Linked DNA regions of Homo sapiens: all the other regions are linked to region 1. Evidence: fine-mapped expression QTL. A gene starts in region 1. Each other region holds a variant in brackets. All regions are shown on one strand. Distances are from middle to middle.

What was found.
Region 2: its variant is fine-mapped to the expression of ERAP1 in fibroblasts (GTEx, PIP above 0.99).
Region 3: its variant is fine-mapped to the expression of ERAP1 in whole blood (INTERVAL, PIP above 0.99).
Region 4: its variant is fine-mapped to the expression of ERAP1 in whole blood (TOPMed, PIP above 0.99).
Region 5: its variant is fine-mapped to the expression of ERAP1 in whole blood (INTERVAL, PIP above 0.99). The same link has a PIP of 0.9 or more in T cells, esophagus mucosa, iPS cells, lymphoblastoid cells, monocytes and pancreas.
Region 6: its variant is fine-mapped to the expression of ERAP1 in whole blood (INTERVAL, PIP above 0.99).
Region 7: its variant is fine-mapped to the expression of ERAP1 in fibroblasts (GTEx, PIP above 0.99). The same link has a PIP of 0.9 or more in caudate, esophagus mucosa, subcutaneous fat, visceral fat and whole blood.

The regions. Positions count from the first base shown.
Region 1 is chr5:96,806,133-96,810,201 of GRCh38, forward strand. ERAP1 (endoplasmic reticulum aminopeptidase 1) reads right to left here and starts at 1,813. Exons shown (of 19, transcript NM_001040458.3): 1 at 1,728-1,813. It overlaps LOC124901033 (a long non-coding RNA gene), which reads left to right and starts at 1,326. Exons shown (of 3, transcript XR_007058879.1): 1 at 1,326-2,445. RefSeq lists a silencer at 1,234-1,693 and enhancers at 1,266-1,767, 1,768-2,267, 2,424-2,493.
Region 2 is chr5:96,832,238-96,836,306 of GRCh38, forward strand. It overlaps a transcript of ERAP1 not described here. Among named protein-coding and RNA genes, the nearest start is that of ERAP1, 26 kb to the left of the region's middle. RefSeq lists a silencer at 3,742-3,791. The variant C/A (reference allele first, on the strand shown) is at 2,491.
Region 3 is chr5:96,555,324-96,559,392 of GRCh38, forward strand. The region is part of intron 4 of LOC101929710 (a long non-coding RNA gene); the gene reads left to right. It also overlaps a transcript of CAST not described here. Among named protein-coding and RNA genes, the nearest start is that of CAST, 110 kb to the right of the region's middle. The variant C/T (reference allele first, on the strand shown) is at 2,211.
Region 4 is chr5:96,760,001-96,764,069 of GRCh38, forward strand. It overlaps CAST (calpastatin), which reads left to right. Exons shown (of 32, transcript NM_001750.7): 25 at 2,274-2,372. It also overlaps a transcript of ERAP1 not described here. Among named protein-coding and RNA genes, the nearest start is that of ERAP1, 46 kb to the right of the region's middle. The variant T/C (reference allele first, on the strand shown) is at 2,144.
Region 5 is chr5:96,774,619-96,778,687 of GRCh38, forward strand. CAST (calpastatin) reads left to right here. Exons shown (of 32, transcript NM_001750.7): 32 at 1-65. ERAP1 (endoplasmic reticulum aminopeptidase 1) reads right to left here. Exons shown (of 19, transcript NM_001040458.3): 19 at 1-1,933. The coding sequence ends at 1,778. Among named protein-coding and RNA genes, the nearest start is that of ERAP1, 31 kb to the right of the region's middle. The variant T/G (reference allele first, on the strand shown) is at 1,761.
Region 6 is chr5:96,643,504-96,647,572 of GRCh38, forward strand. It overlaps a transcript of CAST not described here. Among named protein-coding and RNA genes, the nearest start is that of CAST, 17 kb to the right of the region's middle. The variant G/A (reference allele first, on the strand shown) is at 2,054.
Region 7 is chr5:96,912,799-96,916,867 of GRCh38, forward strand. It overlaps ERAP2 (endoplasmic reticulum aminopeptidase 2), which reads left to right. Exons shown (of 19, transcript NM_022350.5): 17 at 519-659; 18 at 2,890-2,971. It also overlaps a transcript of ERAP1 not described here. Among named protein-coding and RNA genes, the nearest start is that of LNPEP, 21 kb to the right of the region's middle. The variant C/T (reference allele first, on the strand shown) is at 2,500.

The DNA.
Region 1 (4,069 bases):
TCATGTTCGTGTGTTTGGCTCTTCCCCTGAAAAATTAGCTCTTGTTTGGCTTTGCTTCCAATAGTAAGTGTTCCAGTTTGAAACATGGCATTTCATGGTTCTGGCTGGTCTCCTAGGGTCTGGTTTTACTAACAATTTTCTGAAAGGGAGGCAGTTAAAAAAAAAGAAAGCTCTCAAAAACAGTAGTCTACTCAATATAAGCAGCTCTTCCCAAGAGAAGTACAATTCTCTTTGAAGTTACACTCCACTAACACTTAAAGGAATAGAAGCCAAGGAGGAAAAAGAACTAATATTTACTAAGCTCCTCCAAAGTGCCAGGCACTTTACACATGCTCACTCTCTCTAATAGCCTATTATTCTCATTCAAGGTGGGGTAACTGAAGCAAAGAACCATTCATGTAACTTTGCTAAGTTCACACAACTTGTTGGAATGCAATCCACATCTGTGTGAGTATAAACTCCCTGCTTTTTCAGCTTCACCAAGATCCCTCTTTTTTTTTTTTTTTTTTTTTTTTGAGACGGAGTCTCGCTCTGTCTCCCAGGCTGGAGTGCAGTGGTGCGATCTTGGCTCACTGCAACCTCTGCCTCCCTTCCTTTTATTGGGGCACTATAGTATATGAAATAGATCATCAAGAAGTAATTGAGGTTCTTCCAGAATTTCCTGAACAATGAAATTAACAAGCACTGTTGGTAAATAATAAAAATGCTGGATTAATTTGAAAAAAAAAAAAGTACTAGAATGTTTCTATTCAGGCCGCACCTGAAAATGTGCTACTTATACTAATTAAAAATCCTCAGGCAAGAGACAACTGTGCCCAATTTTCAAGTTTTTTGTTTTGTTTTGTTTTGTTTTGTTGTTTTGTTAATTGTTGACCACGTCCTGAGTTCAGAGCGAATCCTCTGGGTGTTTAATAGGAAACAGATAATTTCTTTCTGAACCTAGCCTACACAAAGAAATCCAAAAGCGTGAGGAAGTGTGTGCTCTCCCCCTTCCCCTCATGGAATTAACTTTGTAGGACCACCTGGCCAGTGAGGCACCCAGATAGGAAACTTTTAATTTGCGTCAACAGAGGTGCTTTATCTGAATAAAACCCAGCCAGAGCCAGAGCGAAGGGGAGAGAGAGAATTGCTGACCAGAAGAACAGGAGAAGCAGGGAGGGAAGTGACCTTAAGAACACACACGGCCCGCGCATCCCACCCCACCAGAGTCTTTAACCCAAAGCCTCTGGGTTTCTCTAGCAGCTATGGGCAGGTGCCCTCCTCAGCCCGAGCCAGCTGCCCGCCCCACCCCGCCTTTTGGCCTCGCGCGGGCGTCGGTGGCCTGCAGGACTGGCAGGCATCCAGGCGCCAGGCGGAGCGCTGAGGGAGGCTCCCGCCGGCCGAACAGCGGGGAGACCCGTGAAGCAGGCGCACCGGCCACGCGCCCGGAGGGACAGGGACAGGGACCGGCAGGGGTGGGCCCGCCGCCAACCCGCCGGGCACCCCGCGGACTCGGGCCTAGCCAGCGACTCCCCCCGCCCTTCCCGCGCCCTGTCTCGCGCCCCGTCGCCTTCCTCCCGCGCCCCGTCGCCTTCCTCCCGCGCCCCGTCTCCCTCCTCCCGTGCCCCGTCTCCCTCCTCCCGTGCCCCAGGCCCTCAGCCCCCCACTTGACGGGCGCAGGGAAGGGGCGGGTGCCGCGCTCTCCTCCCGGCCCGCAGTCCCCTACCCGCGGCTCGAGCGCGCTGTACCTGGGGTTCTGGGGCCGCCCTCACCCTTGCGCCGCCGCCACCACCACTGCCGCCGGCCTAGCTCCCCCAGGACCGAAAGTGAAAGTGGAGCCCGGGGAGCGGCAGGCTGGCGCTGAGCGGCGCTTCGGCCCGAGCCCTAGCGGCAGGCGGGGAAGCCCCTGGCTAAGGCGGGAGCTGGGGAAAGGGTAAACGGGAGTGGGGCCGAGCGAGGGAAGCCGCAACTCCCAGGAAGGGAATTGGTAAATGAGCGCTGCACGCCGGGGAAGCTGCGAGGTTGCGATGCGGGGGATCAGGCGTAGGAAGTGCACGCCTTTCTGAACGCGGATCCGTGTGTGTGTGTGTGTGTGTGTGTGTGTGTGTGTGTGTGTGTGTGTGTGTGTGTGTGTGTGTGTGTGTGTGTGTTGAGATGCTTTTTGTTTTTGTCTTTTTTTTTTTTTCACTGTTTAGCGTTGCGAGGGTTAGGGGCATGCAGGAAAGGGCCGGTGCTCAAGTTGGGGACCGAAGCCAGGCAGGCGCTGACAAGTCCACCAAGCCTAGACGCGTTCGACGCCCATTGGACTCGCTGGGTGTCCGTCATCTCGCCACTGCCAGTGGGCTGAGAGCTCTTGGCCCGCCTCGGAAAGAAACATGAACCCAGTACTCTGTCGTGGCAAAGTGCCGCACCTTCTGGGGCTTCGGTAGAGAATGACTACAGTGGGAGATGCTGTAGAGGAGGAAGGTGGGTTAGAGGTGGCCCCCAGGACTTTCCTGCACTACCAAGGGCCACTGTACCCCAAGGATTAGCTGCTTCCCGCATCAACACGTTCCCTCTGATTTTTCAAAGTAAATGACCATTTCTTCACTCCCCTTAGAACAATTAAAGCTGAATAAAATGGCCAAAAAGACCATCTTTAAACAGTTGAGGCTAAATGAGGTAACAAGTCAAGAAAACACAAACATTAAAACACCAAATGCTACAAGTTTATTACCGAAAATGGGTCCCGATCCAGACCCCAAGAGAGGGTTCTTGGATTTTGCGCAAGAAAGAATTTGAGGGGAGTCCATGGAGTAAAGTGAAAGCAAGTAATTAAGAAACTAAAGGAATAAAAGAATGGCTACTCATAGGCAGAGCACCCCCAAGGGCTGTTGGTTGTCCATTTTTAGGGTTATTTCTTGATTATATGCTAAGCGGGGGAAATTATTCATGCCTCCCCTTTTTAGACCATATAGGGTAGCTTCCCGACGTTGCAGTGGCATTTGTAAACTGTCATGGAGCTGGTGAGACCGTAGCAGTGACGACCAGAGGACACTCTCATTGCCATCCTGGTTTTGGTGGGTTTTGGCCAGCTTCCTTACTGCAACCTGTTTTATCAGCAAGGTCTTTATGACCTGTGTCTTGTGCCTACCTTCTATCTCATTCTGTGACTTAGAATGTCTAACCTCCTGGGAGTGTAGCCCAGTAGGTCTCAGCCTTATTTTACCCAGCTCCTATTCAAGATGGAGTTGCTCTGGTTCAAACGTCTCTGATAATTTGGTGAGTGGACCATGGTCCTAGTGGGAACAGGACCCTTTTCATGCGGTTCTCAGACTTTCTTCTCCCACTTCTTTATTGGCCTTCTTCCCTTTGAGAACTGGGGATTCCAAGTCACTGCAACAGTATTTCTCTTTTTTTTTCAATATTATGTTTCCTTTTTAAAAATATAATGTTTCATACTGCCTATTATCTCTAGTCAAGGACATTTTATAATATAAAGATTAACACCCTGTTCCAAGACTCAACTACGGTGGGATCCAGGGAAGTTTTTTTCACTAAAATTCAACAAGAAATGAGGACTTTGAGATCTGGTAATTTCTGCATGTTCAGAATTTGACAGGAGGTATCAATGGATAGCGTGTAGCCTCCAAGACCTCCAGACATCTCGGAGTGCTCCCAGTTTACTCAAGATGAGACCTCTTTGTCCAGTAAATGTATGCATTTCTTTGCTTTTATATTTATATTTTTGAATATGATGGTTTTCCTTTGGCTTCTAGTAAAGTTTTTTTGTTTTTGTTTTTGTTTTTTGTTTATGTGTCTTTTTAAATACATATTGAAAGTCCAGCTGGCAGAACTGAATGCACCCAACAGGCTGGAGGTTAATACAGAAGACAGCTGAGGAGACAAACAGGGCAATGCCCTGAATGGATGTGGGCAGAAAGGAGCTGAAGTGTAGGCGAGGAGAGAGCTGACACCACCACCCGCTCCACGCCGTTTCCCCAAAAGCTCACCCTGACTCAGACTTTAGCCTGTCGCCCTGGCCGTGATTTCGTCTTTAGAGTTGAAGTGCACTACAAAGAGCGATAAGTCAGAGGATTTGGCAGCATTC
Region 2 (4,069 bases), 26 kb after region 1:
CTTTGCTCCTGGTGTATGATAGAACTTCTGTCCCCTGAGATGAATGCTGGCCAGGAGGCAGTTACATTTGTTCCAAACCTGACTTGCCAGTTGTATTCTTTAGGTAGTTACTTAAGTTAATAAAATGTTATTAAATCAATGGGTAGAATAGAATGTTGCACCTATGAACACCAAGTCGAATATTTTGGAAAGTCTTGATTAAATTGAGTGGAATTGGGGGTATATATAATAGCTGCAAAAGACTGAGAAAAGTTGTAAAAATATAGAAGAACTACACATTCAGATTTTTCCACAAATGTCTTTAAAGTCTTCCTTTGAAATGAGGAATGCATAAAATTAAAGGATTTGAAAAAATTCTTTCTGGGCCCCTTCCAGCTTGTGTTATTTTATGACTTTTATCCTTGAAAATATTTAATCATCTTTATAAACATGAACAGGATTTGTAAAATGTATTTAAGTCTCTGAAAATGTGCTATAAGTAGCAGATATCATTGTACGTACAAAGAGACAGTGATGCTACAAATATCTTCGATTTTATCGATGTTCTTCCACACTGCTTGAATTGCATTCATGATCCCTTTGGGCTGATGTCATGGACTGAATGTTTGTGTCTCCTGAAAATTTATGTGATAAAATTTAGCACCCAATGTGATGATATTAGAAGATGGGGCCTTTGAGACTAATTAGGTCATGAAGGTGGAGCCATCGTGAATGAAATTAGTGCCCATATAAAAGGGATCCCGGGGAGTAATCCTGCTCTCTTTCTGCCACCTGAGGATACAAGAATTCATCAGTCTACAACCTGGAAGAGGTCTCAGCCATGCTGATGCCTTAATTTTGAACTTTTAGCCTCCAGAACTGTGAGAAATAAATTTCTGTTTTTTATAAGCCACCCAAAATACGCTACTTTGTTACAGCAGCCTAAACTGAGATAGCTGATAAATTTGGAGACCAATATTTAGACAGAAACTGAAATTATTAATTACATTATTCAATCTGCCAAAGGTGACACTTTAGGATTGCTGTTGTCCAGCTGCAAATCTCTTTGTGTTCCATTATGCTTCTCCAGTGGATGGGGTCTTGAGCTTCATGAGTAAAAGATGTTCATTACACCTTCTGTGCTTTGATCATATAAATATTTCTCAACAGGTTATTTTTGGAAATGTATGTTTGTTTACTGATATCAAAAGGGTTTTTTGTATGTGGTTATATTGGTGATCAAAATGGTGTCAAGATAAAAATGAACTATTTTGAAGGACATATATATTCTCAATCATAAAGTCAATTCAAAATGTTGGTTCATTGAGGTTCTCCTATATACAGATCACTATTTTAGGGAGTGGGAAGACATGAAAATAAATAGAATTTAGTCACATGGTTCCTGACCTCACCTTGTGTAAAAAAATAGCAATTAGCCGAGCATGGTGGTGCGTGCCTGTAATCCCAGCTACTTGGGAGGCTGAGGCAGGGGAATCGCTTGAACCCGGGAGGCGGAGGTTGCAGTGAACCAAGATTGCACCACTGCACTCCAGCCTGGCGACAGAGCAAGGCTCGGAAAAAAAAAAAAAAGAAAAGAAAAAGAAGATAGCATGTGAATTCTGACAGGATTTTCTTTCCTTCAGGTTCAGCCCTCCATGTGTCTTCTGATTTTCCTGTCCACGTATCTTTGTCTTTGTATTCATTAAAAAAATTGAATACTCCCAACTTATTAATGTAGTAGTAATGATCCATTGCTGATTGTACCAAAATGCATGCCAGTTGAAGTAAAGTTGCTAATTGGGTAGCCACAACTAGTTGAAATGAAAAACTGACACTTAAAATGGTAGATATAGCTTCACAGAATGAGAAAGCGGTAGCCTTAATTTGTTAGCATCATCAGATATTTAGTTCCTCAGTAATTCAGTGACTTCCGCAGTTAGTTAAAGCTTTCAGTAAAGAAAAATGTTTTTAAATACCTCTCTCTGCCACAAGAATCTCCTTCTCCAACAAATTAATTTCCTTCTTGCCAAGGTATGTGTGTACTTGTCAACCTTCTCAACTCATGAGTCTGCATTCAGCAGAAGGGGTCCTATTCCAGCTCTCCCACTTACTATTTGTTAGAGTTTGTCAAGCTTTCCAGTCTCAGTTTTCTAATCTTCAGTATAGAATAATAACCCCGACCATAAAGAGCATTGTGCACAATGGGCCTATTATTAATGTTCATTTCTTCTGTGAGTTCAACACAGTGATCAGATCATATCCAATTTGAGGAACTTAAAGTTAACTGCTAAGTTGTGATATGGTAAGTGGAGTCCTGAGTTTGATGTATGTGAACTTATACTGAGACAAAACTTTTACCTGTGGTCTAGTTCACAGTAAAATGAACTACTGGAAGAATAAAAAAAGATTTGAGAACTCAATCAAAATAAAATCAATCCAAATAAATGGTAGTGCAATTTGCTGAGTTTCTTCAATGAAGAAACATACACAATAAACCTGTGAATGTTATCA[C/A]TGGAAGTGTTTGATGCTGTGGGAAGGAATAACATTTCTATTTCACTGTTATTACTAAATCATAATTGCATGGTGTTTAACCTCTACTGTATAAATCATCTAATGAGGATTCATTTCTATGTAATTTTTTGTTACACAAAGAAACACTGCATAATACTTACCCAGTAATAGGCAGTTTTTTAGACCCATTGAATCAAAATCTGATTTGGGGACTGTAAATTTACATTTTAAAGAAACACCCACATGATTCTTAGGCACACAACCGACTGAGAACCACCAGGATGAGGGCCTTTAGTATTTGTTGTGTGCTGTCCCTTTCCACATTTCAAAGAATACTAAGGGGCTGTTAGGCGTGTACTAGTGGCTGAGAAGTTTGCTTTCACAGTAAAGAAGGTAACACCATGACACTGTCTGTGGCTTAAGATAAAATTATGATATTTCTTGAGAAAGACAAAACTCTGCTGTTGACTGTCCTAGAAGGCTAAAAGGATAATTGGAGTTGTCGAGCTGGTTATGACCAAAGCTGCTTTAGAACTTCTTTGGAGTTTGAGTGATCCTTGCCACATGGTGAGATCTTCAGGGACCTGTCAAGTTCCTGACAAGAACTTGATTGAGGACAAGACACTGCTCCTTTAAGCCACATGAATTGCTACAAGGATCTTAAAATACACAAATGAAGACCAGGTAGAAGCTCAGATGCTGGTCTCAAATTCCAACCCTGTTGTCAGGATTTTCTGTCATATATCTTTTTAAAAACAACAAAGTAGAACATCCTTACATGTAGGGAAGTTTATTTGTACGAAATGATGTTAAAAAAAATTCCAGGTGCTTTTTAAAACAATTATTGCTGATTGTTTTGTTGTATATTAATAATACCTCTATGTGTTTGATTTTAAGTCTAAGTTTACAGTGTGTTTTCCTTCTGTATAACCATGTTTTACTGTACTATCATAACAAATTTACAGTTGTACAAACATGAATAAATCCTTCAAAAAGCCAGCAGTACGAAGGCTCACAAGTCGGAAAGGCCCATCCTACTTAGTAGGTACTACAAACTTTATCAACTGGAGCAGGGTCTTCAAAAGGAGGGGTTGGACCTCTGGGAAACCACAGAGGCTTTCCAAGGGACACCCAGGCAGACAGGTGGTTCTAACAGGGCATCAATTTCCTGAATTTCAACTGCAGGCATACTCTATCCAAACATGATCTGAGAACACTCTTGTGGTTTTAAGGTTATATGGGACCTCCGTTTCACCTTTGCTTTCACTTGACAAAAGAAGGAACAACTTCTCTCCATGGTTAATACTACTATGATACAATTTCTGAGATGAGAAACCTGCATGAGTCAGAGAGAAATGTGAAATAATATTTCTGGTATTGAAAAAATGAATGCCTTCAATGACCGGAAAACAAATCCTTTTACATTTCAGGGATTTTCCACCTCTTTGGTTTTTTTTTTTTTTTTTTTTCTGTTTTTTGTTTGTTTGTTTTCAAGACAGAGTCTCACTCTGTCACCCAGACTGGAGTGCAGTGGTGCAATCTGGGCTCACTGCAACCTCTACGTCCTGGATTCAAGCAG
Region 3 (4,069 bases), 250 kb before region 1:
GCATTTCCAACTGAGGTACGTGTTCATCTCACTGGGGAGTGTCAGACAGTGGGTGCAGGACAGTGGGTGCAGCGCACCCAGCGTGAGCCGAAGCAGGGTGAAGCATCGCCTCACCCAGGAAGTGCAAGGGGTCAGGGAATTCCCTTTCCTAGTCAAAGAAAGAGGCGACAGACGGCACCTAGGAAATCGGGTCACTCCCACCCTAATACTGCACTTTTCCAAAGGTCTTAGCAAACGGCACACCAGGACATTATATCCCGCACCTGGCTTGAAGGGTCCTACGCCCATGGAGCCTAGCTCATTGCTAGCATAGCAGTCTGAGATCTAACTGCAAGGCGGCAGCGAGGCTGACGGAGGGGTGCCCGCCATTGCCGAGGCTTGAGTAGGTAAACAAAGCGGCCAGGAAGCTCAAACTGGGTGGAGCCCACTACAGCTCAAGGAGGCCTGCCTGCCTCTGTAGACTCCACCTCTAGGGGCAGGGCATAGCCAAACAAAAGGCAGCAGAAACCTCTGCAGACTTAAATGTCCCTGTCTGACAGCTTTGAAGAGAGTAGTGGTTCTCCCAGCACGCAGCTGGAGATCTGAGAACGGACAGACTGCCTCCTCAAGTGAGTAGCCTAACTGGGAGGCACCCCCCAGTAGGGGCAGACTGACACCTCACATGGCTGGGTACTCCTCTGAGACAAAACTTCCAGAGGAACAATCAGGCAGCAATATTTGCTGTTCACCAATATCCGCTGTTCTGCAGCCTCCGCTGCTTATACCCAGGCAAACAGGGTCTGGAGTGGACCTCCAGAAAACTCCAACAGACCTGCAGCTGAGGGTCCTGACTGTTAGAAGGAAAACTAACAAACAGAAAGGACATCCACACCAAAACCCCATCTGTACATCTGCATCATCAAAGACCAAAGGTAGATAAGACCACAAAGATGGGGAAAAAACAGAGCAGAAAAACTGGAAACTCTAAAAAGCAGAGCGCCTCTCCTCCTCCAAAGGAATGCAGATCCTCACCAGCAACAGAACAAAGCTGGACGGAGAATGACTTTGACGAGTTGAGAGAAGAAGGCTTCAGAAGATCAAACTACTCAGAGCTAAAGGAGGAAGTGCGAACCCATGGCAAAGAAGTTAAAAACCTTGAAAAAAATTAGACAAATGGCTAACTAGAATAACCAATGCAGAGAAGTCCTTAAAGGACCTGATGGAGCTGAAAACCACAGCACGAGAACTATGTGACCAATGCACAAGCCTCGGTAGCCTATTTGATCAACTGGAAGAAAGGGTATCAGTGATGGAAGACCAAATGAATGAAATGAAGTGAGAAGAGAAGTTTAGAGAAAAAAGAATAAAAAGAAATGAACAAAGCCTCCAAGAAATATGGGACTATGTGAAAAGACCAAATCTACATCTGACTGGTGTACCTGAAAGTGATGGGGAGAATGGAACCAAGTTGGAAAACACTCTGCAGGATATTATCCAGGAAAACTTCCCCAATCTAGCAAGGCAGGCCAACATTCAAATCCAGGAAATACAGAGAATGCCACAAAGATACTCCTCGAGAAGAGCAACTCCAAGACACATAATTGTCAGATTCACCAAAGTTGAAATGAAGGAAAAAATGTTAAGGGCAGCCAGAGAGAAAGGTCGGGTTACCCACAAAGGGAAGCCCATCAGAATAACAGGGGATCTCTCGGCAGAAACTCTACAAGCCAGAAGACAGTGGCAGCCAATACTCAACATTCTTAAAGAAAAGAATTTTCAACCCAGAATTTCGTATCCAGCCAAACTAAGCTTCAGAAGTGAAGGAGAAATAAAATACTTTACAGACAAGCAAATACTGAGAGATTTTGTCACCACCAGGCCTGCCTTACAAGAGCTCCTGAAGGAAGCACTAAACATGGAAAGGAACAACTGGTACCAGCCACTGCAAAAACATGCCAAATTGTAAAGACTATCGATGCTAGGAAGAAACTGCATCAACTAACGAGCAAAATAACCAGCTAACATCATAATGACAGGACCAAATTCACACATAACAATATTAACCTTAAATGTAAATGGGCTAAATGCTCCAATTAAAAGACACAGACTGGCAAATTGGATAAATAGTCAAGACCCATCAGTGTGCTGTATTCAGGAAACCCATATCATGTGCCGACACACACAGGCTCAAAATAAAGGGATGGAGAAAGATCTATCAAGCAAATGGAAAA[C/T]GAAAAAAAGGCAGGGGTTGCAATCCTAGTCTCTGATAAAACAGACTTTAAACCAACAAAGATCAAAAGAGACAAGGCCATTACATAATGGTAAAGGGATCAATTCAACAAGAAGAGCTAACTGTCCTAAATATATATGCACCCAATACAGGAGCACCCAGATTCATAAACCAAGTCCTTAGAGACCTACAAAGAAACTTAGACTCCCACACAGTAATAATGGGAGACTTTAGCACACCACTGTCAACATTAGACAGATCAACGAGACAGAAAGTTAACAAGGATATCCAGAAACTGAACTCAGCTCTGCACCAAGCAGACCTAACAGAAATCTACAGAACTCTCCACCCCAAATCAACACACTATACATTCTTTTCAGCACCACACCACACCTATTCCAAAACTGACCACATAGTTGGAAGTAAAGCACTCCTCAGCAAATGTAAAAGAACAGAAATTATAACAAACTGTCTCTCAGACCACAGTGCAATCAAACTAGAACTCAGGATTCAGAAACTCACTCAAAACCGCTCAACTACATGGAAACTGAACAACCTGATCCTGAATGACTACTGGGTACATAACGAAATGAAGGCAGAAATAAAGATGTTCTTTGAAACCAACGAGAATAAAGACACAACATATCAGAATCTCTGGGACACATTCAAAGCAATGTGTAGAGGGAAATTTATAGCACTAAATGCCCACAAGAGAAAGCAGGAAAGATCTAAAATTGACACCCTAACATCACAATTAAAAGAACTAGAGAAGCAAGAGCAAACACATTCAAAAGCTAGCAGAAGGCAAGAAATAACTAAGATCAGAGCAGAACTGAAGGAAATAGAGACACAAAAAAACCCTTCAAAAAAATCAGTGAATCCAGGAGCTGGTTTTTTGAAAAGATCAACAAAATTGAGAGACCACTAGCAAGACTAATAAAGAAGAAAAGAGAGAAGAATCAAATAGACGCACTAAAAAATGATAAAGGGGATAACACCACAGATCCCACAGAAATACAAACTACCATCAGAGAATACTATAAACACCTCTACACAAATAAACTAGAAAATCTAGAAGAAATGGATAAATTCCTCGACACATACACCCTCCCAAGACTAAACCAGGAAGAAATTGAATGTCTGAATACATCAATGATTGGCTCTGAAATTGAGGCAATAATTAATAGCTTACCAACCAAAAAAGTCCAGGACCAGATGGATTCACAGCCGAATTCTACCAGAGCTATGAGGAGGAGCTAGTACCATTCCTTCTGAAACTATTCCAATCAATAGAAATAGAGGGAATCCTCCCTAACTCATTTTATGAGGCCAGCATCATCCTGATACCAAAGCCTGGCAGAGACACAACAAAAAAAGAGAATTTTAGACCAATATCCCTGATGAACATTGATGCAAAAATCCTCAATAAACTACTGGCAAACCGAATCCAGCAGCACATCAAAAAGCTTATCCACCATAATCAAGTGGGCTTCATCCCTGGGATGCAAGGCTGGTTCAACATATGCAAATCGATAAACGTAATCCAGCATATAAACAGAACCAATGACAAAAGCCACATGATTATCTCAATAGATGCAGAAAACGCCTTTGACAAAATTCAACAACCCTTCATGCTAAAATCTCTCAATAAATTAGGTATTGATGGGAAGTATCTCAAAATAATAAGAGCTGTCTATGACAAACCCACAGCCAATATCATACTGAATGGGCAAAAACTGGAAGCATTCCCTTTGAAAACTGGCTAAAGACAGGGATGTCCTCTCTCACCACTTCTATTCAACATAGTGTTGGAAGTTCTGGCCAGGGCAATCAGGCAGGAGAAGGAAATAAGGGGTATTC
Region 4 (4,069 bases), 46 kb before region 1:
AGAAAATATTGCAATGATTTTCAAACTGTCCTTCTACTGAAGGTTTAAAGATGACTCTAACTGTTGAACACTCAGTTCTTATGTGGCATAAATATGTCATGAAAAAGATGGGGTCACATAGTTGCTTCTATGAGTAATTATGGTGCTAATCTTAAAATCTGACAAATATAACGGTATCAGCTAAAGTTACTTAAATGTGTAGATGTAAAAATTACATACAGCATACATAGAATATAACAAACAGTTAAATTATTTGCCATTATAAGTATTGATTCAGTAGCAGGAAAACTGTCAATATATTGTAGTGGTATATCAAATAGAAACAAATAATCATGTCCATGTAAAAGATCTATTTAAAATTTTACATATACTCATATTATAAATAAAAACTTTTTAAAAAGTAGGCAATCCCCTAATCTGTTAAAGAGTCTTTAGTTTTCAGAATCAAATATTCAATATCATGCTGGAGGCATTTTCCTTAAAAGCAGAAACTATGAAAAGTTTATTGTCATTTCTGCTTATTATCACATGGAAGAATCATTAACAACACATGAAAAAAATGACAAACATTAAAAGGGAACATTTGAATATATTTGTGGATAGCACTACTTGTAGATAATACATTTGTAAGTAACATTATGCCATGTTTATTAGTAACAACAGATGAGAAAATGTAATTAATATGAGATCAGACTTAATGTAAACTATAAAAGGAGAAATGATCAGAAAAATAAGGACACAAAAAAATTGAAGGCCATACATTAAGTCAGTTTAACTAAATATCTTAAAAAGAATGATGACAATTCAAGTCATTTTATGTGTTAATTTTTTATTAAATAGCAATAAGATACTTTTATAACTCAATAAAATTATTCAATGATACATTCGGAAAATAAATGTATAAAATATGAAAAAGTACTAAAAAGCATTTTTCAGTACTTTTAGGTAAGATTAATCCAACTAAACACTAGCATATGTTATACAGTAATAATAAGTGGAAAATACAATAATGTTGAGAAAGCAAACTCAAAGCATAGATCAATGAAAAAATTGAGAAATGGACATAAATGATTTAGTATTTTTAAAGAGAGTGAAAAATCATTATTTTATGCTTTTGTGTAGCATTAGATGAATTAAATAACATATGCACATATAGCTTTGCGATACAAATTTCCAGACCATAGGTTGTTTCATACTTAGTATTAAAAGGCTTAAATAATAAGTCAATAAGATAGTTTAAGAAGAGACAATACAAATGTTTCAATGTCATTCTTTTCATTTGACAACTTGTTATTCTTTTCATTTGTCATATAAGCAAAGATTTCTCATAACTAAAAATGAATTTAATTTAGTACATTTTGGATTACCTAAAATATTACATTCTAAAACGGCTTTACAGGGTATAAATGGACAATAAGTATCTTATAGTTATCTAAATTAGTTTAAATAATTTCCAATAATAACATGCTGAAATGAATTTCTGAATGTTGGTATCTTTTTAATGTGCTTTTCTCCATCTTTTGGTAAAATTTGCAATTCTCCTTTTTCAAAATAAGCTATCCATAGTTGGAGTCACCAAAGAGTTCTGGACTTTTTTCTGGTTTTTCATCAACAGTTATACCTAAGTTTTTTTGTCAAAAGGGAGTATTTGAAATGAAGCAAATATTCAATATTTTTAAACAGAAATTATTTCAGAAAGTTTCTAGAATATTTAACGTTGAAAAAAAACCCTGAAACCTGACACCGTATACCACAATATACAAGCAATAGTAGTATATCATTTTACACTGATTATCATAATAAAAGTCAAATTCTGGCAAGCAAGGCCATGGGAAAACAGGCATGCTTATTCATTGCTTTTCGCAGTATGAATTCCTAGCAACATTTGAGAGGGCAGTTTAGCAAAATATAGCCAGCACCATAACTCACTCACTAGAACTTATTCAGAGCAATTTTAAAAGAGCTGAAAACTTTGAATAACCTAAATGTACAACAGGAAATGTGTAAACAAACCGTGGAACTCTAAGTTATATTATTGCATAGTATTTAGAATAATCAATATGAGAAGGAAATAGAAATAGCAAATTGTATAAAATAATACAATAGAGAAGAAAGAATTTAAATTTCTTTTAAAATTATATGT[T/C]ATTATGAGTCTATTTGGTCAAGAGAATAAACAGTCATTAAGCTATCTTTAAGAGTTATAGTTAAGTGATGGCATTGTGCTCATAATTTTATATACAACATGTTACTAATAAAATTTTTTTCAATAAAAGAAATTTGAAGATGCTAAACTTGCTGCTGCCATCTCTGAAGTGGTTTCCCAAACCCCAGCTTCAACGACCCAAGCTGGAGCCCCACCCCGTGATACCTCGGTAAGCAGCACATCTTATTTGGGAGATAAATGTTTTTGCGCAGCCACAACTAGAAAGAAAATAGGGCGCCTGTTTAAAGCAAATGAAAATAGGCAGAATTATTAGGAAGATCAGGCACCTTCTATTTCAGAAGAGCCGAGACTGATGATTTAGCGAGATGGCAGAGATTAACTTTGAAATGATTAAATGAAACTATATATGTGAAAACATTGTACACATAGTCAAGGACCTTAATATTATTGTTGCTTTATAAGAATTGAAAGTGCAATAAAGTGCATTGTGTCTATATTCAAATTACTAGATTTGAAAAGTTCTTTAGCTTTCCTGATAATTGATTTTCTCCTTTATATTTTTTCTTATACATTCTATAATTTACTACCCATTATTTAACCTCAAGTTTATTTTATGGAATCGTCATGTTTGAGCTTTTACAAACATTTTACAAACGTCATGGAATAGCATTGTTTTCTTCCCAATTCACACCAGTAAAAATTTGTCACTTTCATACTAGCAGTAGAAGAACCTCAGCATCAATATTGTTTTAATTATTTACATGCTGTGAGGCAAGGCTGTGGGACCAAAGCTTTTCCAGACTTCCTTGACTAATCACCTGTGCAATACCAAATTATACATTACCAAGGAGACCACAGCACATCAAATTATAAAGGGATTGCCCTAAACCAGATCCCCATCTCCTTTGGTTGAGAACAGTGCCTCATTTGCTAGATGGAGATGAAGTAACTTTAGCGAAGTCAGCTATGCTTCCATTCCGTTTGATGTAGCATCAAAGCATATTTAGTGCTGTAGTCTGAGATTCTGATGGATTTTCATCCTGTTGCGTCAGCTTCAGGATCATCTGAAAATATCCAGAGGCACAAATGACAAAGCCCAGACCTGGCCCCGGGCAGCTCTACCATTAGCAGCTATAATCCTGGATTATAATAAAGCACTTAAAACCAGTAAAATGCCCCGTGTGTGTGTATGTGCATGTGCATGTGCATGTGTGTATGTAAACACACCCACAATGAAGAAAGTCCCCATGCAACAGAAAGGAAGAATCATTAATAGCCTAGGCTGCCGTTTACACTTCAGTTCTTAATATTCAGGCCAGAGATTCTGCCCTGATGAAGGCTATCAGTAAACATTTGCAATCAAAAACTTTTTTGCCTTTAAGAAGTAGGTTTTACAATGACACTTCTCTGATCACATTTCCCATCAGAGAGGCTTGTTTTTAGTTAACATTTTATTTGAAGATGTCACTAAAACAAGGTATAAAGCTTTATTTAGATAAAAATATTAGGAAATCGAAGAGTCAAATAAACCATGATAATTCACGGGAGCTTTCTTTGCTGTGATTATTAGATTGTTACTAACAGTGTTACATACACTGAAAGCATTTGAAGACATGATTTCAAAGATCTGTGTAATAAAATCACTCCAACAGGAAAACTGCTTCAAAGAAAATAGAAGATCATGGATGTGACTAAGCATGACAGGGAAAAGCTTTATCAGTCCCAAGACCTGGGTTCTATTCACTTTTTAACAATTTGTTTTCAAGCAACTGACTTAGCTTCCCTGAGCTTTTTACCTCAAAAAAAAAAAGCCTGCTTAGTTCACTGAGAACCATTGTGGGCATCAAATAAAACTGGATAGTGTATGTGAAAACATTTTGAAAATCAACTGGAAAGTTCTATACA
Region 5 (4,069 bases), 32 kb before region 1:
AATATTTCCATGTTTCATTAATCAAGGCATAAAATACAATTAAAGCAAAATATTTTACATTAAAATCTTGGTTGTGTATTTTTTTAAAAGAAGGGAAATAGTTTAGTTTGGGGTGGAAATTACCAGTGATTTCTATTTTTATTAAACCATTCACTACAACAAATAAGTATAAAAATTCCAATTCCACTTTTATACCTATTTATTTGTTGTAGTGAATGGTTTAATAAATGGCAGATTTATGTCCAGAAGTCACTCTATTTTGTCGTGTATTAGGGGAACACATTTTGACATTTTTCGTACCAATCATCAATCATATTCCCTTATCTTGAAGTTTTTGCCTTATATTCAAAAAGTTCAGTTTGAATTCTCCTTTGCCAGGTGTGAGGATTTCCGCACCTTAGAGTCAGCGCAAAACACGCTGCAACTTGAATCAAGTCAGCAACAGAGCACACTATGGGTTAGATAAGTCCCTGTGTAGCAAGTTTTCAGAATAAGAAATAAAATCTAATTCTTAGGGTATTAACTGACTTGACTTGAACTCCGTTGGTTTACCATGTTAGTAAACTGTGCTTTCTATTATTATCATCTATACATAAAACCTGAGCAGCAACTGTGTGCTGAAGCAACCGTGTGTGAAGTCTTCACAAAAGAAAGAAAGACTTCAAAGCCAAAGAATGTCCTATTTGCTAATATGAGCAAATATTTTGTTTCACAATGTACTATCATTTATTGGTGACTGCAATAATTTACTGTCAGTAAATGCCAATAACTAGTTAGTTAGAAATTGTAAAGTAGGCCAAATAAGAAGCAGAGAGAGAAAAAAAATCACCTCCCTAAGAAAAGGGTTTTCCTACAGACTTGAATGCACTCTGCTTTTTCAGAAGAGATACTGTACCAGTCAGGGAAATAGATGACACTCACTCAGAATTATCTGAGGAGGGTTCTATAAAAAGATTTTTTGCAAAAGTGCGAGCACATTATGTAGAAACCACAAGTCCGCCAGGACTAGTAAAAGCCAGACTCCCACTGAGGCCACTAATCCTGAAGGGATGAGGAGGGAGCAGTTACCAAAATCCAGAGGTGGAGAAGGCTGTGTGGAAAAGAGGGTCCCCTCTCGGAGCTAAGACCCTCAGGGGAGGCCAGCCCGAGGCATCCCGCAAGGGAATCAGGGAAGAACACCTCCACCTACTACCTCCTCCGACCCCAGCTCCAGCTCTCCGGCTCCCCACTGACCAACATCCAAAGGGCAAGAAAGCTTGATGACTTGGCCTTTACAAGTCAGCCCCTGGGCATGGAGCAAGGAAGAGGGATGGGCAGCGGGTCTGGAGGGGTGAGCCGGGAGAGCTTTAACCCAGTCATCGTCCGGCTTAGTCTCAGATCCAGGTGTTCATTGTTCAGTAGTCGACTATTCAGAGTCTTTCGAGGAGACTGATGAAACAGTTTATGAATGATAAACATGGGGTACAGGGTTTTGGACACGGGTGCTTAAGCATAAACTATAAAATGAGAAGAATAAGGTACTTTATTCTTCTGTGGCAGGGAACCCAACACTTGGGTTTACGTTGCAGGGCAACACCTGTGATGAACAAAACACATGGTAGCGATAGCCCATTCATGAAAAACTAACAGCTATTCTTTTCACAGGGATAGTCAAAAAATGAGTTGAAGGGAAAAAAGTATCTCCAGTTGGAGCCAAAACAGCCATCTCTAGTTTGAAAATACACTCAACAAAATGTTGGTGATTAGAGATAACAGGAACC[T/G]GGCAAGGGAGGAATTTTTACATACGTTCAAGCTTTTCACTTTGCAGCCACACTCTGATTTTATCAAAATTCTTATCCATCCAACCGATGTTTTCTTCAATGGTTTCAATTGTCTGTTGGACACAACGGAGCTGAGAACCATTTTCTTTCAAAGAGCTGAAGAATCCTTTTACCTTGTGAGGAAAAAGTGGGTTTTAAAAAATTAATTTTATCACATTAATCAGATGTAACTTTAGTTAAAACTGAAGCCAAAATTCCAGCATTTGTCAAAATTCTATATAGAAGGCAGTCCCAGCTGTCTGAATAGGATTATGTACACATAAGCTGTATGAAATGAGCTCATGCCTCATGATGTCAAGTTCTGTTTTTTGTCTGCAGTTCTTTTGTTTATTCTCAGTTGCCAGACTTTAAAAGACTTCACTGTTTACCATTTTATAATTAAGGTTTAATTGTGTCTATTTAATGTGTTATTCTGTTCTGTTCTCACAGATGCAAACTTCGTTTTTTAAAAACATGATATCTAAAAAGCAGAATGTGCAGAGTCTTTTCTTTGCCAAGCAAAACAGTTTCCACCACGTAAGTGCTGTCTTTCTCCATGGGCCTGGCCTTGTATGTTATTATAGAAACACTGTGGGGAATGGGATTCTTAGCAAGTTATGGCGGTAAGACCCAAACCTTGCCATTTTTTTTATCCTAATCTACAATTCATGTATTGTTGTCTCAAGATAAAATCCACATAAAGTTCCCCATGATTTTAAAGAGATAAGAAACTCTTGGCTACCTCCTGAAAAATATGTTTGTTCTTGTTTCATTTGTGGGTATCTTAATTCACCCCTTGAGCTCACATGACAGATAGGCTGGCTTTGCCACAAGATTGACCATTGTGCGATTCTGTTTCACCTTAAAGGGTTATTATCCTTTTCCCATAAATTTTCACAGCATTAATCCATCAATTTTTGATTTGGTATTCAGGAAGCGAATGTAGACCATGATGTATTATTTATTCAGCATAGATTCCAGACAGCCAGTTCCTTAGAAATCCATGTCATAATACCATATTATTAGTTTGGGAATAAAGAGGGGAGTAGGAATGGGTTTTAGAAAGATCAGAATTCAATTTTAAATGATGCAGAGTTGTTTTAAAATTATATGTCAATACAGTGCAACTTTACAATGAGCAGAAGGCATGGCCTCCTGCTGTAGCAACCTGGAAAACACTTCACTCTCTACTTTAAGTTGTAGCTCAACCTACTGTTTCATACGCTCTCAGAATGCAAGATTAATTCACAGTCGATTAAAAATCACTGAGCACTACTCAACAAAGCACATCAATAATTTTACTAATTGTTCAAATCATTAATCCTAAAGGAGCTCATCATGATAGCTCCACTAAAAACAGACCTTCTACAACAGCGAAGCCAGCTGTTAACCATTACTCTTACCCTTGTCCTGACCCAAAATCATCTCTTCTGTCTTCACCTGCCTTGGAAATGCAACATCTCCACTGAATATTTGATTCAGACTTGGCTCTTTAAGAACAATTTCTGTGCAATAAGTAGCACAATACAGGGATAGGAAAACAGGTTTATCCTACTAACTTGATTTGAGCAAATGATTTAACTTCTATGGAAGCCAGTCTCCTCATTTGTAAAATGAAGAGCAGTGGTGAAGGATGTAGTTATATAATGCAGGTAAAGTGCAAAGCCCCAAACCCAGCATGTATCAGGGACTTAACCTCATCCATTTGTTCACCAATATTTACTCTGATATTTATTCATCCCTCTGCTGTAATTACTGTGCTAGACACTGAGGATGCAGCAGTGAATCAGGCAAGCATCCTCCCCTCATGGAGCTTACAGTCTTTTGGGGTATACAAGCAGTAAATATGATTACTGTAAATAAACTGCTATGAAGAAAATATGCCAGGGGTATGCTAGTAACTGAGGAGATGTGGCCTGCATTGAACAGCATGGTTTTGGGGAAGGTGATCTGAGCCGAGACCTCTCAAAGATAAAATGCCCCTTTCTAGTGAAAAGTTGGGGAATGGGCAAGCCAGGCAGAGAGAATAAAAAGTGCAGAGGCTTAAAGACAGGAGAAACATGTGGTAGCCCAGGAGCAGAAGGAGGCTGAGTGGCTACAGTGTTATGAGAGAGTAAGCCAGGAGCGCCTGTGGGAATTGGCACCAGAGAGGTCCTCAGAAGCCAGGTCTTCAAGGTCATGGACACATGGGAAGGAGGGATTTGGAATTTACTGCAAGAACAATAGGCAGGGTTTCAAGAAGCCAGGGTCAGTTATGGGCTGACTTGCAG
Region 6 (4,069 bases), 160 kb before region 1:
ATGACAGGTGGAACATCTGAGGTCAGGAGTTCGAGACCAGTCTGACCAACATGGTAAAACCCCAACTCCATTAAAAATACAAAAAAATGGGCCAGGCGCAATGGCTCACCCCTGTAATCCCAGCACTTTGGGAGGCCGAGGTGGGTGGATCACGAGGTCAGGAGATGGAGACCAACCTGGCCAACATGGTGAAACCTTGTCTCTACTAAAAATATAAAAATTAGCTGGGTGTGGTGGCGCGCACCTGTAATCCCAGCTACTTGGGAGGCTGAAGCAGGAGAATCGCTTGAACCTTGGAGGCCGAGATTGCAGTGAGCCCAGATCATGACACTGTACTCCAGCCTGGCAACTGAGCGAGACTTCATCTCAAAAAAATAATAATAATAACACAAAAAATTAGCTGGGCATGTTGGTGTGCACCTGTAATCCCATCTACTCAGGAGACTGAGGCAGAATTGCTTGAACCCAGGCCGCAGAGGTTGCAGTGAGCCAAGATCATGCCACTGCACTCCAGCCTGGGGGACAGAACGAGGTTCCGTCTCAAAAACAAAAAAAAAAAAATTGAGGGTTTCTTTTTGAGGTGATGAAAAGGTTCTAAAATTGACTGATCATTCACATCTCTGTGAATATACTAAAAACCATGGAATTGTATACTTCATATGGGTGAATTGTATGGTATGGGGATTATATTTGAATAAAACCATTATTTAAAAAAATACTTCACAACAAATTTGTCTTTAATTAAGTTTCTTGTACAGTGAAAGTCTGTCATTTAAATTTCTCTTTACCCATTTTATATTTACTGCTTCTCCAAGAATAAGGCATTCACAGCAGAAGTAGTTTTGGTACTTGGTGGATTCAAATGGCATGTTGGTCAGCTACAGCCAGCAACTGCTAGAAAATTATCTTTAACCTTTAAAAATTATTATTACAAATAAAAATTTACTACAAATATTTTGGCGGTGTCCATTCCCAGAAAAGTCTTGTTAAACATAAAATTGTTTTTCTTATAACAGTTTATTTTGGAGTAATTTTAGACTGACATAAAAGTTGTGCAGGTGGTATGGAGAATCCACCTATAATCCTCACTCAGTTTCAATTTCCCCTGATGTTATCATCTTACATTATGGTGATACATCTGTCAAAATTAGGAAACCAACATCAGGATATTACTATTAATGAAACTCCAAGCCAGGCGCCGTGGCTCACGCCTGTAATCTCAGCACTTTGGGAGGGTGAGGCGAGTGGACCATTTGAGGTCAGGAGTTTGAGACCAGCCTGGCCAACATGGTGAAACCCCGTGTCTACTAAAAATACAAAAATTAGCCTAGCAGTAGTGGCACGTGCCTGTAATTCCAGCTACTCAGGAGGCTGAGGCAGGAGAATCGCTTGAGCCTGGGAGGCAGAGGTTGCGGTGAGCCAAGATCGGGCCACTGCACTCCAGCCTGGGTGACAGAGTGAGAGTGTCTCAAAAAACAAACAAACAAATAAAACCCAAAACTCCAGACTTCATTTGGATTTATTATTCCACTAATTCCCTTTTTTTGTTGGAGGTCCCAATCCAATACTACATACTCACTATATTTAGTCATCATGTCCCCTTCGACTCCTCTGGGGCCTGTGACAGTTTTTAAGACTTTCCTTGTTTTTCATGCCCTTGACAGTTGGAGTACATCTAGTATTTTGTAAAATATCTCTCGATATGAGCTTATCTGATGTTTTTCTCATGAGTAGGCTGGAGTTATGAGTCTGGGGAAGATTATCACAGTGCTAAAGCGGCCTTCTTGTCACATTCCACATGAGATCCACATGACTTACCACTGGTGCTGTCAACATTCATCACGCGGTTAAGGTGGTGTCTTTCAGGTTTTTCCACTTCAATGTTATTATTTCGCCCTTTCTATATTATTTGGAAGCAAGTCACTAAGTCCAGTGCATGCCCAAATAATTTTTAAATGTGAAAATTATTCCTATTTTATTCGTTTCAAACATAATATTCATTTGCAAGATTCTCTAAGATTATTAAAATTGACTGAGATTCTCTTTTCCTTTC[G/A]TCTTTAATACTTAACTTTAAATTTTTGGATTCTAATGGTTTGGAAAAATAAATATTTTAAATTATAAGATAATATGACTGTTGCTTTCCAAGAGGTGTAATGTAAATTTAAACAATTACCTTTTTTATTTTAAAATATTAATTAGTGGGAAAACGCTGTGAAAGTATAACAAACTTTACTAATACCAAGGGAAAATAAAAGAGAGTATTTCTTATAATCTTGGAGTGGAAAGACCTCTCTAAAGGTCTAGACACAAAACATAGAAACTTGAAAGGAAAAGATTAATAAATTTGACTAAATTAAAATTTTAAAAATATGTATAATATTTTAAAATAATAATTTAAAAATCTATAAAGACAAAAATAACTGTAAGCCAATAATAAAACCAACAATTCAATAGAAACATGGCAAAGGTCACAAATATAGAATTCACAGAAAAAGAAATATACTTTATAAACATGTGAAAAGATGCTCTAACCTGATTCAAAATAAGACAAATATATATTAAAACCACAAGGAGGTAATGTTTTTGTCGCATTACATTACAAAGATAAAAAAATTGATAAAACACACCACCGTCAATATTGCAGAGAAGGAGGTACTATCCCACATCGTTGAACTGGTGCAAAAATTTTGGTTGGTAATTTGGCAAATATCTGTCCAAAATGTTGTAATTATGCATCTTTTGACTAGATATTCCACTTTTATAAATTTCTCTAACAAATATACTTGCATATGCACAGGCACAAAGATACCTGCAAAACTGTTCATTACAGCATCGTTTAATAACAGGGAAAAACTGAAACCAGCTAAGTGGCTACCACCAGGCAACAGTTAAATGTAGTATGAAGCAATTACATAAGATGTTATGCAGTCATTTAAAAGGTAGATTTCTGTAAGGGGATGTGGACTGTCTTGCAAGATGTATTGTTAAATGAAAAAGGCAATGTGAAAAATGGTGTAGATAGTATTCTAGTATGTCTGTAAAAACAGAAATATTCTTTATATAAATTTTCTTCATAACCACATATAAATTGCTCTATTGGCTGTTCCTGGAATTAAAATATTAAAAAATTATAAATAGTGGTTGCCTCTGGGGAGGTGTTGTGGGGCTGCACATGTAAACAGGGAATATTTGCCTCTCATCATCGATTGATTTTTATTATTCAACTTATTTGTTTTAAACACAGCATTTCTTTGTCTATTATAATTTTAGATATCCAATAAAAAATAAATATTATAAATCAAGTGCATGTATAATGTGTAGGTTAAAGCTTATCACTTAGAATCTCTAGAATTTCCAGTTCTTTTGCTGAAGTAACTTGTACTTCTAGAAATCACTTAGCCAAACGATAGGAGGTGAAGGTGAAACTGTTACTGATGCCCAACCTCTCTGTTGCGGACTACCAAATGAAAAGTTGTAATGAATATACCATCTCCCATTTCACCATCTTCTTGAATCATTTTGAGGCTTGGATTATTTTTGTTTCTATAAGTGGCTTGACTTTTCTGCTGGGAACTGCTGGCATGTTTGTGATGGAGTTAGGGGCACTGGCTTGTTGGGTGATTTGTTGCTGCTTAGTGACATACACGGATCGGAGGAAACAAAAACCCCAACTCTCCCACAGCTCCATTTTCCACACCTGCAGTCTCAACCGGAGTCCTTAGGTTTCGGTATATCGTTTTTGTTAATTACATCCAATCCAGACTTCAAAGGCATTGGTTGTACAAGATCATACACTGAGGATGACTTGTTATTCAAATTAACACCTAGTACAGTTCTGTGGTAAAAATAGCCTTGTTGCAAGGAAGTTTCCTTGCTTTGTAAAACCGTTTTAGATTTAATAGGATTTTTACCTATATGAACCTTCGATTATACCACCTTGTGCTGTTCTAGCCAGTATCACTTTTTATGATTAGATCAGTTTCCTTTTTCTAAGTGTTATGAGTTGAAATGTGTCCCCCCAAAATGAATATGTTGAAGTCCTAACCCCATACGACCTTATTTGGAGATA
Region 7 (4,069 bases), 110 kb after region 1:
GTAAGTTCAATAATTTAACTAAATTGTTATAAGTAAACTGACACAAATTCAGTGAAGTCACTAAAACTTCAGCCACCAGTTTTAAAGGCATAAGATAATTGAATCAGAATGTGTATGGCTTTAACTTTACTTTCAGAAAAGAATATATTGACAAAATGCAAATAGTGAAAACAGGTATTCCCTAGTTATTAATCATATGATTGAGACTAGACAAGCGGTTATGTTTTATCTTCAGAAACTTGAAGAAAAATTATTGTTGTAAAAATACATTCTTGCATATAAGATGTGTAAATGATGCTAATCAAACTTATTTGAAATAATAAGTAAATGTTTTTGATAGGAACAAAATAAAAATTATTTCTAAAAAAGTAAAAGTTTAATTGAAACATTAAAAAATTGGTAATTATACTTTTATCATGCCTCTTTCTGTTCTATTCTTTTAATATATTGGTGGCTTGAGTTAATGTCCATGTACATAATACCTACTATTTAGAAACAAATTATTTTTCTTTCTTCAGGTTAATTGAACTAGGAATGGAAGGAAAGGTTATCAAGACACAGAACTTGGCAGCTCTCCTTCATGCGATTGCCAGACGTCCAAAGGGGCAGCAACTAGCATGGGATTTTGTAAGAGAAAATTGGACCCATCTTCTGAAAAAGTTGGTATTCATTTTCATCCAATGTTTGTTCTTCCATGCAGATGTCTCAGTTGCCTCAAACCAAGTGTAATCAAATGTTTCTCAAAGCATATAAATAATACCATTTGTATCCAAATAGTTCAGTGGAGTCAACTTTGAAACTCCCTAGCCCAAATTATCCTGTCCAGGAGTAAGGGAGAGACATGAGAATAAGGGAATGGGAAACAGCCTTCTCTCATTCAGTCCAGGCAAGAAACCACTGGCATCAAGTCCGAGTTGAATTAAATGCAGTCATCAGCCCCCTCCCACCATCCCTTCTTGGCTCTCTCCTCAGCCCAGAAGAATCCCAAGATGCCTTGTATAGTGCATCACACATATGTGGCCTCATTTGTTAATGCAGTTTTGTACTGGGGGAAAATCTCAGGAATTTTGGTAAGAGCTACTCCTCACCCCTAGAGCCCCTGTGGAGGTGGCACAGTGGAGACCTTGGTTCAGGTGAAAGAAACCTAGTCAGGAGTGTTTGGGGAGCCCTCCCTCCAAATTGTTTTGGTTCTGAGTCTTTTCTGGGGTTTCAACTTTGGGGAGAACTGGAGCTCATTTCAATATGTTCCTGGATCTAAAATATCCCTCAGAAATAACCAATAATGATTAGATTTTGTTGGAATGGAATGTATAAGACAGCATTGCTTTCTGTCTCTCTCTCTCTCTCTCTCACACACACACACACACACAATCACAAAACCCTATAAGGCATTCAGCCATTCCTCATCCAAATCTAAAATGTCATTTATGACTTATATGAAAATATCTTGAATCAGAGAGGTATGATTTGCTTTGTTTATGTCAGGGTCAGTTAGCATCCCTGATATCATTAATTCCTAGTTCCTTCTCTTTCATTTCATAGCCGTGGAAGGTTTAGAGTCCTCACACAGCTTTGCGTAAGCAAAAAGCACATTTCCACTCCTCTCCCAAATGCTCAAGGAGTTGACGTCCACATGAGACCAAATAGAAACTGCTTTAATATGTATGTTTGTGTATGTTTCCTTTAAAACTCTACTTGAGCCATTGATTTGTCTGTTTTCATGATTGTCATTTTCCTCCTGAAATGATCAGCCTTAATCTACAATGCTGTGGATTTCATTTTAAACAGGAAATGATGCCCCTGCCCAACCATGTGCAGAGCCTAGACTTGGAACCATATTTTTTTCTGAGCTGTAACTGTGCTCTGCTTTATCAACATGAATCACTTTGACCTGTAGTACAAGTTTTCCATATATAAAACATTGGGTTGAAGGATGCATTCTGTGGCCGTGAATGAGAGTTCAACCAAGTAACATTGCCCCACTAAACACAATGTTTAAACACAGTGGTATCCAAAATGGGATGAGGAAGTGTGCAAGAAGTGCAATACATTAGAGTGTCTATTATTTCTTATCTAATTTTAAATTTTATATTGTTATAAATTTATAAACATAAATGATATATAGTATAAAAAGTTAAATAAATACATTATTTATTTCATGCTTTTAATTTTTTTACCATACCTTAACATATGCATATAATTTTTTTTAATTAATTTATTTTTTTTGAGACGGAGTTTCATTCTCGTTGCCCAGGCTGGAGTGCAATGGCGCCATGTTGGCTCACTGCAACCTCCACCTCCCGGGTTCAAGTGACTCTCCTGCCTCAGCCTCCTGAGTAGCTGGGATTACAGGCATGCACCACCATGCCCAGCTAATTTTTTTGTATTTTAGTACAGATAGGGTTTCTCCATGCTGGTCAGGCAGGTCTCAAACTCCTGACCTCAGGTGATCCACCCACCTCGGCCTCCCAAAGTTCTGGGATTACAGGTGTGAGCCAC[C/T]GCGCCCAGCCCATATAATTTATAAATAAAAATATGTATATTGGGAAGTTCTTGCTCAAAAAATCTTTACTGACTGGAGTATGTAGTAACAAAAAAAGTAGGGAACACTGCTTTAAACAGAAACATAAAATTAAACATAAACATTGCTGAATAACTAACCATATTTCCCAAAGAAGCTGTATCTACATTTTCATTTTATAGTAAAATTTGATAAGTTTCACAGCTTTAGAATTGTACTGGATGAATGTTATTATGGTAATTCACCGTATCTATTGTAATACACAAGCTTATCACATAGTTATTAATATACATTAAAAATATAATACATGATATAATAAACATAAGGTCAGTATTTCTATGACTTTCTATGGTGTTTCTTTTTATTTTCAGATTTGACTTGGGCTCATATGACATAAGGATGATCATCTCTGGCACAACAGCTCACTTTTCTTCCAAGGATAAGTTGCAAGAGGTTTGTGACTTTCTGTTTTTAACAATTTCAAAATAAATGTTCAAATTGTGGAATTGAAAGTAAACTTAGATATAATCTGATTTGAAGTTCTCATTTTAGTTTTTAAAAAAGTTGTTTGTCCAATGCCATATAGCAAGTAAATGGAAGGGACAGGATTAAAACCTGACACTTGGCCAGGCACAGTGGCTCACACCTGTAATCCCACCACTTTGGGAGGCCAAGGCAGGTAGATCATGGGGTCAGGAGTTCGAGACCAGCCTGGCCAATATGGTGAAACCCTGTCTCTAATAAAAATACAAAAATTAGCAGAATGTGGTGGCACGCACCTGTAGTCCCAGCTACTTGGGAGGCTGAGGCAGAAGAATCACTTGGACCCAGGAGGCGGAGGTTGCAGTGAGCTGAGATCACACCACTGCACTCCAGCCTGGGTGACAGAGTGAGACTCCATCTCAAAAAAACAAAAAACAAAAACAAAAACAAAAAACAACAGCAAAAAAAAGCCCCTGACTCTTAAAATACTTAAAATACGTGTATTCATAGCATTCAAAATGAAAATAGACTTGAGAGGTGAGCCCTTTTGTATTATTTCTTTCATATTGTATTACGATGCAAGAGTGATTATATTAAAGTTTGGAAGCGTACTTAATGATCTTTTTAACAAAACTATTGTTGGTAATTCTAGTTATCTTTTTTTTTTTTTTTTTTTTTTTGAGGCGGAGTCTTGCTCTGTTGCCCAGGCTGGAGTGCAGTGGCTTGCGATCTCGGCTCACTGCAAGCTCCGCCTCCCAGGTTCACGCCATTCTCCTGCCTCAGCCTCCCGAGTAGCTGGGACTACAGGAGGCTGCCACCATGCCCACCTAATTTTTTTGTATTTTTTTTTAGTAGAGATGGGGTTTCACTGTGTTAGCCAGGGTGGTCTCGATCTCCTGACCTCGTGATCCACCCACTTTGGCCTCCCGAAGTGCTGGGATTACAGGCGTGAGCCACCAGCCTATCTTTTTTTTTTTTTTAAAGCATTATAGTCTTTGCACCTTCTTTTCACAATAAATCTTGAATTTATTTACCCTTTAGGCAAATTCAGAATTCCTGAACTTAAAT